2 separate regions of the Homo sapiens genome follow, and region 2 is linked to region 1. A link means that fine-mapping ties the variant in region 1 to the expression of a gene that starts in the linked region. Tissue or cell type: neutrophils. Region 1 holds a variant in brackets; the other region holds the start of a gene. All regions are shown on one strand. Distances are between the middles of the regions.

Region 1 (7,680 bases):
CTATGTAAGAAGTTTAACTTGCCATTCTGTGAGAAAGCCAAGGCACAGAGAGAGGCCATGTGTAGGCGCTGTGGTCAGCAGTCCTAGTTTTTGAATGCGTCAGGCCCAGCCACTGACACGTGAGTAAACAAGACTTCAGCTGCTTCTAGCTCCCAGTTGTGAAGTCATCCTCAGGCTGAATCTTCCCAGCTGAGTCCCTAGACAGCTTGGAGCTGAGAGAAGCCATCCCCAACTGGGTCCTTTCTGAATTCCTGACCCATAGACTCTGTAAACACAATAAATGGGTTGTTATTTTATGCCACTAAGTTTGGGGTGGCTTGTTACACAGCAATAATAACTAAAAGACCCATTATCTTCAACAACACCAAAAAGTAGGGCTATAAAAAAAAAAGGAAGAATTGTTATAAATTAAGGCTGGGCACAGTGGTTCAGGCCTGTAATCTCTAGAACTTTGGGAGGCCAAGGTGGGAGGATCACTTGAAATCAAGAGTTCAAGGCCAGCCTGGACAACACAGTAAGATCCTGTCTCCAGAAAAAAATAAAATAAAAAATACCTGGGCATGGGAGTATGTGCCTGTAGTCCCAGCTACTAGAGAAGCCGAGGTGGGAGGATCGCTTGAGCCCAGGAATTTGAGGCTACAGTGAGCTATAATTGTGCCACTATACTTTAGCTTGGGCAACAGGGAGAGATCCTGTCTCAAAAAACAAAAACAAAACAACAAGAAAAATAATACACATACACATATATACATGCCCACATATATATACACACACACATATGTATGTTATAAACTAAAAAAGACATAAGAGATATAACAAATACAAATGACATTGTTTTGCTTCTGATTAGAATAAACTATTACAGAATGACATTTAGGAAAGTCAGGGCAAATTGATTTCTGGCTGGATACCAGTTGATATTAGGAATTATTTTTAATTGTTTTATATGTGACATAGTGGTTATTGAAAAAAGTCCTTATTTGTTATAGAATTTATAGTATTTAAATATGAAGATAACCATGATTTGCTTTAAAATTTGCTTTAAAATGATGGTGAGGGAGGGGTGGGGTATAGATAAAACAAGACTGCCATATATTGTTAATCGTTGAGGCCAAGCAATAGGTAATGGGTGTTTATTATATTATTATCTCTACTTTTGTGAGTATTGAAAACTTCCCATAAGAAAAACTGAACATGCCTCTATGCATGCCTGGGGGCTTGTAAGACCCAGGATTCTACCCCAATATGGGGGATTTCATGCATGGAAACAGACTAGCAGAGAAAGTCATATTCTTAGGAAAAATGTTTTGGGCACTCCTTAAATCTTTGGTGACTAGAAATCCACTTGAAAACAGAATTCCCTTCCCTGACAGTACCTATTCCAGTGTTAGGTACACAGGGTGGGGAGGAGGGAAATTGATTGGAATTAAGAAACCTGATTAATTCAGAATTAATGCACCAGCTTCCTCTGAAGATTAGGTAGTATTCAATTTTCAGCCTTTCAGAAATATATTCGTCAGCATAAAGACAGGCGAATGGGCTGCATGTTGCTATGCAGACGACACAGTTTGGAAGGGCCTTCTGTTTGCTTATGGATTCGCTCTCCCTTGAAGAAAAACTATTAACTCATGCTGCAGCCTGCTGCTCTCTGCTTGGTGTTGGCTATGTCACCGAGCCCAAAATAGAAAGTTCTTTTACTGCAGAGAGGGAAGGAGGTTTAAATTTATCAATTCAAATAACAAAGGGTAGAATTATACTGGCTTTTCTCGGGTGGGGAGTAGGGGGAGATAATGCCTATTTCATTAGGAGAAAAAGTGATCTGACATTGGCAGGGGCTGGGACCAGAAGACAAGCTTGCACTGTGGTGATTGGGCTTGTTTCCCATCCTGGCCCCCCTCACTCCCTCCTTCCAACAGTGTCACCTCTTTCAGGACATGGGAAAGCATCTGAGCCACTGGGTAATCAGTTCCAGAAATATCACTGAAATTATCAGACTGGGAACGATTCTCTGAACCAAATCCCTTCTCGCTCAGCTTCTGAAACAGTCAGTACCTTACCACAAAGTTAAACAGCAGGGAGATGTTATCTTTCTCCTATGAAATGGTCAAAAATCTTTTAAAGATTCCCAGTGTTGGAAGGAGTTTGGGGCAATGGGCATTCTCCTGCATTGCTGGAGGAGAGGCAAACTGATCTAACCACCTGGAAAGCAACTTGACAACATAGATCCCAAACCATGGAAACATCAATACCAGAGGATATGGATCCAGAGGCTCTCTCATCCATGGCTGGGGGAAGCGTCAATTGATTTTCTAGAGAAATGCTTGCACGGGTACAACAGGAGACATTGACAATAATGTTCATAATAGCAGCGTGCGCAAGAACTAAATCCTAGAAACAATGCAGTTGCCCATCAGTAAGAGAGTAGATTATAAACTGCGGTATATTTATGTATTGGATTATTTTACATCAGTCAAAATGAATGAACTACAGTGAAATGCAATGATACAGACGGATTTTAGCAAAATATCAAGTGAAAAATAAAATAAATCCTGAAAGATTACATACAACATAATATCCTTTTTTATGAAACTCAGAACAATTTAAAAACTATTCTTTAGGAATATGTACAGATATTGGCCAGGCGTGGTGGCTCACGCCTGTAATCTCAGCACTTTGGGAGGCCGAGGCGGGGTGGATCACTTGAGGTCAGGAGTTCGAGACCAGCCTAGGCAATACGGTGAAACCCTGTCTCTACTAAAAATACAAAAGTTGTCAGGAGCAGTGGCTCATGCCTGTAATCCCAGCACTTTGGGTGGCCGAGGTGGGCGGATGACGAGGTCAGGAGTTCAAGACCAGCCTGGCCAATATGGTGAAATCCCGTCTCTACTGAAAATACAAAAATTAGCCAGATGTGTTGGTGCGCGCCTGTAGTCCCAGCTACTCAGGAGGCTGGGGCGGGAGAATCGCTTGAACTGGGAGGTGGAGTTTGCAGTGAGCTGAGATCATGCCACTGCACTCCAGCCTGGGTGACAGAGCGAGACTCCGTCTCAAAAAAATAAATAAATAAAAATAAAAATACAAGTTAGCCAGGTGTGGTGGGACACAGCTATAATCCCGGCTACTGGGAAGGCTGAGGCAGGAACCCAGGAGGCAGAGGTTGCAGTGAGCCGAGATCATGCCATTGCACTCCAGCCTGGACAATAAAGTGAGACTTTGTCTCAAAAAAAAAAGGAATATATACAGGTATAATAAAACTATATAAAAAGGAAAGCAAGGAAATGAGCACAGGATTCAGGATGATTGTCTGGGGTGGGGAGCAAGGAGATGGGGCAGTGGGGGCAGGAGGAACTATGGTTAGATATTAGTTTTGTCAAGGTCCTAGCTTTTGTTTGGGGTTATAAATTCACAGGTACTGATTACGTTATTAATGAATTTACCACCTAAATTAACAAAACCAGGCCATCCATATGCCAGTTATGAGAGTGAACCATGAACCAAGCATTCTGGTTAATCTAATTCTGTATACCTGACATTAAAAAAACAAAAACAGGGTATAGCATTTTGTGTAGTCAGTCAATTCACTTCTAAGCATTTATCTTAAGGAAATAAGCAGAGATGCATACAAAAATTTATGAACAAGAACATTTACCACAGTATTTATAAATATAAATATAGGAAATAATCTAAATAATCTAATACCAAACTAATAGATTAGTTATATAAATTGGGTTATATCAATGTGCTAGAAAACTAGGTACTCTCTAAAAATATTATTTTCTAATAGTATCTAAGTATATGAGAAAATGCTCATAATATGTCAGTTGAATAACACAGTACACAATATGAACCCAGTTTTTAATTTTCCCTAAGTATATATATGCACCAAAAAAGCTGGGAAGGAAGGGCTGGGCACAGTGGCTCACATCTGTAATCCTAGCATTTTGGGAGGCTGAGGTGGAGGATCACTTGAGCCCAGGAGTTTGAGACCAGCCTGGATAACATAGTGAGACCTCATCTCTACAAAAAATACAAAAATTAGCCAGGTGCAGCGGCAAGCGCCTGTGGTCCCAGCTACTCAGGAGGCAGAGGTGGGAAGATCACTTGAGCCCAGGAGGTCAAGGCTACAGTGAGCTGTGAACATGCCATTGCACTCCAGCCTGGGTGACAGAGCAAGACGATGTCTCAAAACAAACAAACAAACAAAAAACAAAAACAAAAAGACAGCCAGGAGCGGTAGCTCACACCTGTAATCCCAGCACTTTGGGAGGCTGAGGGGGGTGGATCACTAGAGGTCAGGAGTTTGACACCAGCCTGGCCAACATGATGAAGCCCCATTTCTACCAAAAATAAAAAAATTAGCCAGGCATGGTGGCCTGTGCCTGTAATCTCAGCTACTTGGGAGCCTGAGGCAGGAGAATCACTTGAAACCCAGAGGCAGAGGCTGCAGCGAGCTGAGATAGCGCCACTGCACTCCAGCCTGGGCGACAGAGCAAGACTCCATCTCAAAAAAAAAAGAGAAAAAAAAAAAAA[G/AG]CAAGAAAAAATTAAGCTGGGAATACTGTACATCAAAATGATAATAGCACTTATCTCTGGATGTTATGATTGTTTCTTCCTTAAACTTGCAGTAGTTCACAAATTTGCTATAGTGAAGATTAATTTTTTTTTCTTGTTGAAGGTTTTTTGTTGTTGTTGTTTTCATATTTTTTTTAGTAGAGACGGGGTTTCACCATGTTGGCCAGGCTGGTCTCGAACTCCTGACCTCAAGTGATCCGCCAACCTAGGCCTCCCAAAGTGCTGGGATTACAGGCATGAGCCACCACGTCCAGCCGTGAAGGTTTTTTTAATAACCAAAAATAATCATATTATAAAAATAGATGTTAGTAATAACTAATGTAGATAGAGTACTTATATGCTAAGAATTTTACAGAAATTAATTTAAAGCTTAAAATAATCCTATGAGGATAGTACTATTATGATCCCCATGTTACAGATGAAGATACTAAGATTTAAGGGGATAAACAGCTTGCATGAGGACACGGATGATAAGAAATGGTGCAGAAATGGTACCCTCTAGAATCGGGCTTCTAGAGGGTTCTTCAAAGGGTACCCAATGGTAGAGTCTTGGTCTCCCAAACCCAGAAATGGCTACACTCAGATGATTTCTCCTAGAACAGTACTGGGAACTGAATGGCCTGATGAGGAACCTGAAATTCACACAGAGAAAGAGGCCCCCTTGGGGTGTCTGAGCCAGAGCCGACACAAGGCAGCTAACCAGCGAATATAGAGAGGACAGACATGGAGGAGCCCCAGTGCCCAAGCCCCTGAGGGTTTCTTTTTTTTTCTTTCCTTTTTTTTTGAGACAGAGTCTTGCTCTGTTGCCCAGGCTGGAGTGCAGTGGCGCCATCTCTGCTCACTGCAACCTCCACCTGCTGGACTCAAGCAATCCTCACACCTCAACCTCCCAAGTAGCTGGGACAACAGTTGCCCACCACCACGCCTGCCTAAATTTTGGATTTTTAGTAGAGACGGGGTTTTGCCATGTTGCTCAGGCTTGTCTCAAACTCCTGAGCTTGAGCGATCTGCTCACCTTGGCCTCCCAAAGTGCTGAGGTTACAGGCATGAGCCACTGCGCCTGGCCCCTCCACAAGGTTTTCTTTTCTTTTTTTAAATGTTTATTTCTTGCCCCCCTGAGGATTTCTGATGAGCTCTTGAGAGAATAGGAGATCCCAGTGACTGGAGAGTCAACTGGAGGGCAGAGATGTTTTACTCATGGCTCTGACCAGCTCGGGCTCCCACCAGACAATGCAGGACTGGCTTCTAGAGCCTTCGATGCAGAGGAGGAGAGAGCTCTATGGATGGGACAGAGCCAAGGTCTCAGCTTTGGTCTCTTCTCATCACTCATGCTTTAAATATAAGCTCTAATGTCATCAAGGCACCAGAGATAAAATGCCTTTCTCAAGCTAAGCAGACAGGCTCTGGTATCCAATTTGGACAAGATAGTGGAAAACAGACTCAGGGGGAAAAAATCTCTTGGCCTCAGCACCAGCACATGGGAGTTGAATCTGACACCTTAACATTGTACAATAAACAAATGTAGGCATGGTTTCCTATGTTTTCTTCAAAACATCTAGAATAGATCTGATTGGAGGGAATGATTTTAACAATTAATTCTTCTCTCCTCAGCTGAAAAATTCTGGATTATCCTCCAAGATGTAACTAAACCATCAGCTTCTGTGGAAATACTTCCCAGCTTCCCCAAGCAACAGGGCCATCCCTCTTCTGTGCATGTTTAATAAATAATTTGTTTGCCTGTTGGACTGTGTGTCTCCCCTGAGCATAAGCTCGGTAGACAGTGTAGTATGCAACTTCGGGCTTGCCCTCCTTTCTCAGCACCCCTCTCTACCACCTCTCCTTCATATGCATTCCTATGCCTGCTGTGGGGTAATTGCTAATTAAATGTTGATTGCTGAAATAGAGAGCTATGGAGGTTCAGGAATGGTCTTCTAGATTTCCCAGAGCTGGGACTCAAACCCCTTTTTGGATCTCTGATGCTTGAGAGAATCTGATGAAAGCTAAGAAACTTTCCCCAGAAAAAAAAAAAGCACATGCAAAAGAAAATTCCCAATTGCATAGCACTAAATACCCATACTAACACACACACAATTATGTGCATGTAAAACTGGGGAAATCTGAATAAGATAGGTGAATTGAATCAATATCAATTTCCAAGTTGTGATATGGTACTATAATACTGCAAGATGTTACCACTGAGAAACTGGGATCTCTCTGTATTATTTCTTATAGATGCATGTGAATCTAAAATTATCTCAATAAGGCCAGGTGTGGTGGCTCACGCCTGTAATATCAGTACTTTGGGAGGCCGAGGTGGGCAGATCACCTGAGGTCAGGAGTTCGAGACAAGCCTGGACAAGATGGTGAAACCCTGTCTCTACTAAAAATACAAAAATTAGCCAGGCATGGTGGTATGCACCTGTAATCCCAGCTACTCAGGAGGCTGAGGTGGAGGAATTGCTTGAACCCAGGAGGCAGAGGTTGCAGTGAGCCAAGATTGTGCAACTGCACTCCACCCTGGGTGACAAGAGCAAAACTCTGTCTTAAATAAATAAATAAATAAAAATAATCTTGGCCAGGCCCGGTGGCTCATGCCTATAATCCCAGCACTTTGGGAGGCCAAGGCAGGTGGATCACCTGAGGTCAGGAGTTCAAGACCAGCCTGGCCAACATGGTGAAACCCTGTCTCTACTAAAAATTAAAAAATTAGCAGGGTGTGGTGGTGGGTGCCTGTAATCCAGGCTACTTGGGAGGCTGAGGTGGGAGAATCGCTTCAACCCGTGAGTTTGCATCGTGAGTTTGCAACCCGGAGTTTGCAGTGAGCCAAGATCACACCAATGCATTCCAGCCTGGGCAACAAGAGCGAGACTCTGTCTCAAAAATAAATAAATAAATAAACAAATAAATAATCTCAATAAGAATTTCCATTAAAAAACACAAAATTTCCATACATTATTTTTTCAGAGTTGATGGACCCCCCTGCTGAACCTACCCATGAATCCTAAATTGAGAACTCTCTAATATAGACCAATTTTTGCGTTGTTGGATGGGGAAACTGATGGGAGAGGATGTGTTCAAAGTCATTCAGATTGATGGTGAATAAGGAGATTG
Region 2 (5,000 bases), 62 kb after region 1:
TGAGGATCACCTGGAGAACTGGTTTAAAGGGCAGAAAAACCTGCCCCCAGGGAGTTATTAGATTGAGAGTGGACCCAGGAATCTGCATTTTTCTTGAGCCAATTTATTTTTAAAGTTAAAAAATTTGAATATGTAATACATTCATGTGAATTGATACCCAAAAGATACAAAGGGGTATAAGGTGAAAAATTATTCTAACCCATCCCTCAGTGACCTAGTTCCCTTCCTCTGAGGTGACCAATTTCTTGTGTATCTTTCCTGAGATAATCTATACATATAGCACCATATACAAGCAAATGAAATATGTTTTATTTATTTTTTTGAGACTGGGTCTCACTCTATCACCCAGGCTGGAGTGCAGTGACACCATCTTGGCTCTCCGCAACCTCTGCCTCCTGGGCTCAGGTGATCCTCCCACCTTAACCTCCAGAGTAGCTGGGACTACACGCTCACACCACCACACCCACCTAATTTTTGTTTTTTTGTAGAGACGGGGTTTCACCATGTTGCCCAGGCTGGTCTCAAACTCCTGAGTTCAAGTGATCTGCCCACCTCGGCCTCCCAAAGTGCTGAGATTACAGGCGTGAGCCTCCACGCCCGGCCCCAAAATCTGTTTTAAAAGCAGACATTTCTTGGTGATTCTAATAAAGGGGGTTCTCAGACATATTTGGAAAAATATATCCCTACTTTTATGCCAGACCCTGTGCTGGGTCCCCGGGCTGTGTGACCTGACACTGCACAGTCCTGCTTAGAATGCTTAAAGAGAGTTAATAAGGTACCACCTTCTATGCCATAGGCGGGGAGCAAAGGGGCTCCAGTGGGCCCTGCCTAGGAGGCCTGAAGCTAGAGCTGCTGAGGGCAGGGCTGTGCTGCAAAGAAAATGTCTGAGAGCTGCAGGCGTTTCATCTTCTGTCATCAGCTGTGGCACCTGGCAGACACTGGATAGGCTTGTAGACAAAGACCTGGTAACTCAAGGAGCTGCTTGGCCTTCCTGCCCAGTCCCATCCCAGAGGCACTGTACATCTCTGGTTTCTTCAGGGGGCCCTGTGTGGAAGTATCTTTTGTCTTCCTGGTGTCAGGGATATCATCACGTGCCTGTTGGCTAGGCGAGCCCGGCGCCCAGTCTCCTAGGATGGGGAGAGTAATGTTCCCGAGCAGAACAGGGTGGGGCTTTCAGACTACTCCCTTTCCTTTACAGCTGGCTTCATTCCATCGACCTCATCAAAGCCTTCCTGGGAGCACCCTAGAGAAGAGTTACGTCCAGGCCGGGCCCTGGCTGCCTGGTTCACGGCGGAATCCCCAGCACCACGCCTCGCACGTCGGGCTCAAAGCATGTTTAGTGAAGGAGTAGGTACCTACTGCTAGATGGAGCCATCTCTCTAGACTTGGGGTTTCCCTATAACGATGGCTATGTTTGGCATGGAAGCCTCTTTAGAAGTCAATAGTAGGAAATAAGGGCTAACAGCACCTAATTGTGGAGTAAGGTTCAAATCCTAGCTCTGCCACTTAACCGTTCCGAACCTGTTCCCTCACTGCAGAGGCGAAAAGGCTAACACTATTTCACCTCGGAGGGTTACCGTGGAGAATGGAAGCTGGACAAGCTGTATCAGTTCAGTAGTAAAACACACACACACAAGCGCCCCACCCCCACCCCACCCCACCCCAGGAATGAACACACACACCCGCGCGCGCACATACACCTCAGGAATGAACACACGCGCGTACACACACACGCAGCCCCCCCCAGGAGTGAACACACACACACACGCCCCGTTCTGTTGTTCCCAGGAACACACACAGAGACGCACACACTCGCCCGGTTTTGTTTTTTCCAGGCTTTTTAACTGGGGTCTTTCACTCGGCTTAGGGCACCGCTGCCTGAAAGACCTTTCTAGGCCAGTCGGGGTCCGGCACCCAGTTGACGAGACAGCGCGGCGCTTTCAGAGCTGGGGAGAGGCGAAAACTCTTCCGGCCCCCCGATCCCCCGGCCAGCCGCCCCCGGCAGCTCCTTGCCGCCTCCCGGCCTGGGCCCGCCCAGCCGTTCTCGGCCTGCCGTCAGGCGATCTCGGCGGCCAGCCCAGCCGCGATGTGACGCCGCGCGCCCCGGGGTCCTCGGCGCCTGCGCCCTCTCCTATAAAGCAGACGCCGCGCCGCGCTGCGACGCTGTAGTGGCTTCGTCTTCGGTTTTTCTCTTCCTTCGCTAACGCCTCCCGGCTCTCGTCAGCCTCCCGCCGGCCGTCTCCTTAACACCGAACACCGTGAGTAGCCGCCCACTGAACTGGAAAGGGTCGTGGCTACCGGATTGCGTGCCGGCTGGCCTCACCGCTGCGGTTTGGGCCTGCCCGCGGCGGGCGGTGACTGGGCCTGGCCTTCTTTCGGGCCCGGTGGATCGCGTTGTCGACCCTGTTCTTCGGGAGACCCTACCAGGTTCCGTTCACCTGCCCCGCCCCCGACTCAGCGAGGCCTCCTCTGGCCGGGCGTCCTCACGGCGCTCCATAAGTGAGCCGAACCCCGGGCTGGGCCTTCTCTGCACCGGCCGAGCGTCAGCCGGCGCGGAGCTCGGCTGCAAGGCCCAGGCTGCGGCCGGGGGCCTCTCTTGGTCTTAAGCCTGCTGTCCCGGGGACCAGGGCGGGGGTGGCGGCGGGGTTGTGAATGGGGGTCCCTTGGCTGTCGTGAGCGTGGGCGTGTGTCGGTGTCTGGCTTTTGTTGTGGTCGGGAGGGAGAGCTGCGGTGGTGGTCTGAGGCCGCCCGGTTCTTGGCTCCCATCCTTTCTCCACCGTGTCTGGCGTCACTAGCTACCGGTCGGTCCTGGCTAACCGTGTGCGGGCGCCGGCTTTCTGCACATAGCCGCCTGCTCCATCTGAATATTTCTTAGCGTTGTTTTGCCATGACTTGGAGTCGTTGAGCAGATACCATCGTCAGAGTGGTGTGACTTGTAGGAGCCTTAACTGTGTATAACTTAACTCTAGGTATCTGGCTTTTAAAGAAATAGGACGTCTACCTGCTTTGATTCACTTTTAATGGAAACTTCACGTTTGGGTTTTAGGGACATGCATTTTTCCTTTAGAGCGTGACAGTAGAATGTATCCGTTTCATAGAACAATACCGTCTCCTCCACTGTGCAGTCTAAAAAGCAGTGTCAGAATTTCGGGTCACTTAAAGCGCAGGGGTTTTTTTTTCTATATGATGTGATAGAACCCGCTTTATGCTGGCCATGGAGAATTATTTACAAGTGCAGGAGCCTTTAGGCCTCTTTCTTTAGAATGGAATTGTTTTGAAAGCATTTCAAATAAATATTTCATCCATTATTACTTAAAAATTTTGCACTTTATTCTACTGTAACACTAAAACTTATCTTTGAGTTTAGTATTACCAAGTGCATCGAATTACAGATTAACCGATTGACCAGCTGCTATTTAGTAAGGTCTCAACTCCCTTAAGAGTAACCCAATCCACAAACTTGACTATGACTAAGCACTTATCTTGAGTTATTTGAAAGAAATATGAAACGGTCGTCTTGCTTTTAGAGTAATTTTAATCAACTGCATTGTTAGATTTGTGATTCTGCACTGTTCATTTCAGTACTATCTAATATAAAAATTACATGTTTAAATGTTTTATAATTAAAAATTGGGCTCAGGTTAAAATATTTTCTTTTGGAGATACCTTTTGTTGTGGTCTTGTCACAGGAAGGGTCCTCTACTCTGCATCCTTCTCCATTAAGCAGGGACAACTGCATTATTGGCAAGCGCTAAGCAACATGGAGAAGCAGACATGTTTGTGAATCGCAAAGTGAAATCTGATTCTCTCCAACTATGGATGAGTGAGAGTAGGATATTTCAGTGGCTGGTTTTAAAACATGCTTTACTTTTTTGCTTCCTTTGCCTAACAACCTGTTTGCTTTGGGGTTGGCGACAATTGTCTCAGAGAAGCTGAATGAATATTTTAACCGATGTAATGGGTCATAAGTCTTTGAACATAAAATGGGTGTGATGCATGTTTTAAATGCCAAATGATACACTTTTGGGAAAATATATGCGATTTGTAATACAACACACCTAGAAAACTTCAGAGGTGCCATAAGTTAATAGTGACATCACCGGATTATGAATACTTGAGAAGCATGGGCCTTTTAAAAGTTGTATGTGAGTTTTAAGAGGCCTTGAATTAATCTGTACCAGGTATTGCTATTCTTTTTGTTGTTGTTGTTTTCCTTGTTTGTATGTTTTCTTTTTTAAAAAAAGAATTTGAAGATGGTAAGAAATTGTTGGACTTTTAATTTTAAATGCCTTTTTTTTTTTTTTTGCCAGAACTCAAGTCCTTTGAAATTAAATGCTTAACTTTTTATGTAAGATTATATCTTTTTCCTAACGACTCATAATTAATCTGAATTAATAAATGCGTTTTCAGAGCAAGTAATAGGTTATTATTATGGAGATCTTGCCAAGAGATCTCAAAGTTGGTCACCTGGACAGTCAGTACTGAAAGATAAAAAGGGCTCTGAAATGAAGCTTTTAAGTAGATTTAGGGAATTGTACTCACATCTGCTTATCTTTAAATCATTTTATTCTCTTGTATATGGTCTTGCATTGCCTCAGACATAAATGAGCATATTCTGATGTACTCTTTGGATCTGAACTCATCTTCACAGGTAGGACTCACTGTGGGGAAAATTTCTATCTTATTTAGTAGCGTTGTTTGTTTTGGACTGACCTTCCTCAGGTTCGCATGTAGTTAATTGTGGCAGTTAACTGTTCAGATGGAGTCCAGTATTCAGTGGGAGACGAAAGGCAGGCAGAAAGCAAATACAAATATGTATGTTTTATTAAATTTATACCAATAGTGAGTTCAGTAGGGCAGGCCTTAAAAGCTTCTGTTCCTAGTAGTTATACTTTGAAAAAATTTTAATAGAAATACTCGGAGACTAACTTGTGAATAACTGCTTACAACAGTGCTTTACAGGGTTATGTATTGTAGGTTCTTAGAACTTTGTGGTCAAT

Direction of the effects. Alleles are on the strand shown, and positions count from the first base shown. SD is a standard deviation of normalised expression in the study named.
For the expression in neutrophils of the gene that starts at base 2,163 in region 2, allele AG in region 1 goes with a higher level than allele G (large effect, 0.75 SD a copy in BLUEPRINT).

The links. PIP is the estimated chance that this variant, and not a neighbour inherited with it, causes the effect.
Region 2: it holds the start of SKP1, and the variant in region 1 is fine-mapped to the expression of SKP1 in neutrophils (BLUEPRINT, PIP 0.95).

The regions. Positions count from the first base shown.
Region 1 is chr5:134,234,748-134,242,427 of GRCh38, reverse strand. No RefSeq gene overlaps it. Among named protein-coding and RNA genes, the nearest start is that of PPP2CA-DT, 12 kb to the right of the region's middle. RefSeq lists an enhancer at 1,670-1,719. The variant G/AG (reference allele first, on the strand shown) is at 4,531.
Region 2 is chr5:134,174,113-134,179,112 of GRCh38, reverse strand. It overlaps SKP1 (S-phase kinase associated protein 1), which reads left to right and starts at 2,163. Exons shown (of 6, transcript NM_170679.3): 1 at 2,163-2,258. RefSeq lists enhancers at 745-1,259, 2,163-2,412, 2,503-2,782 and a silencer at 1,933-2,012.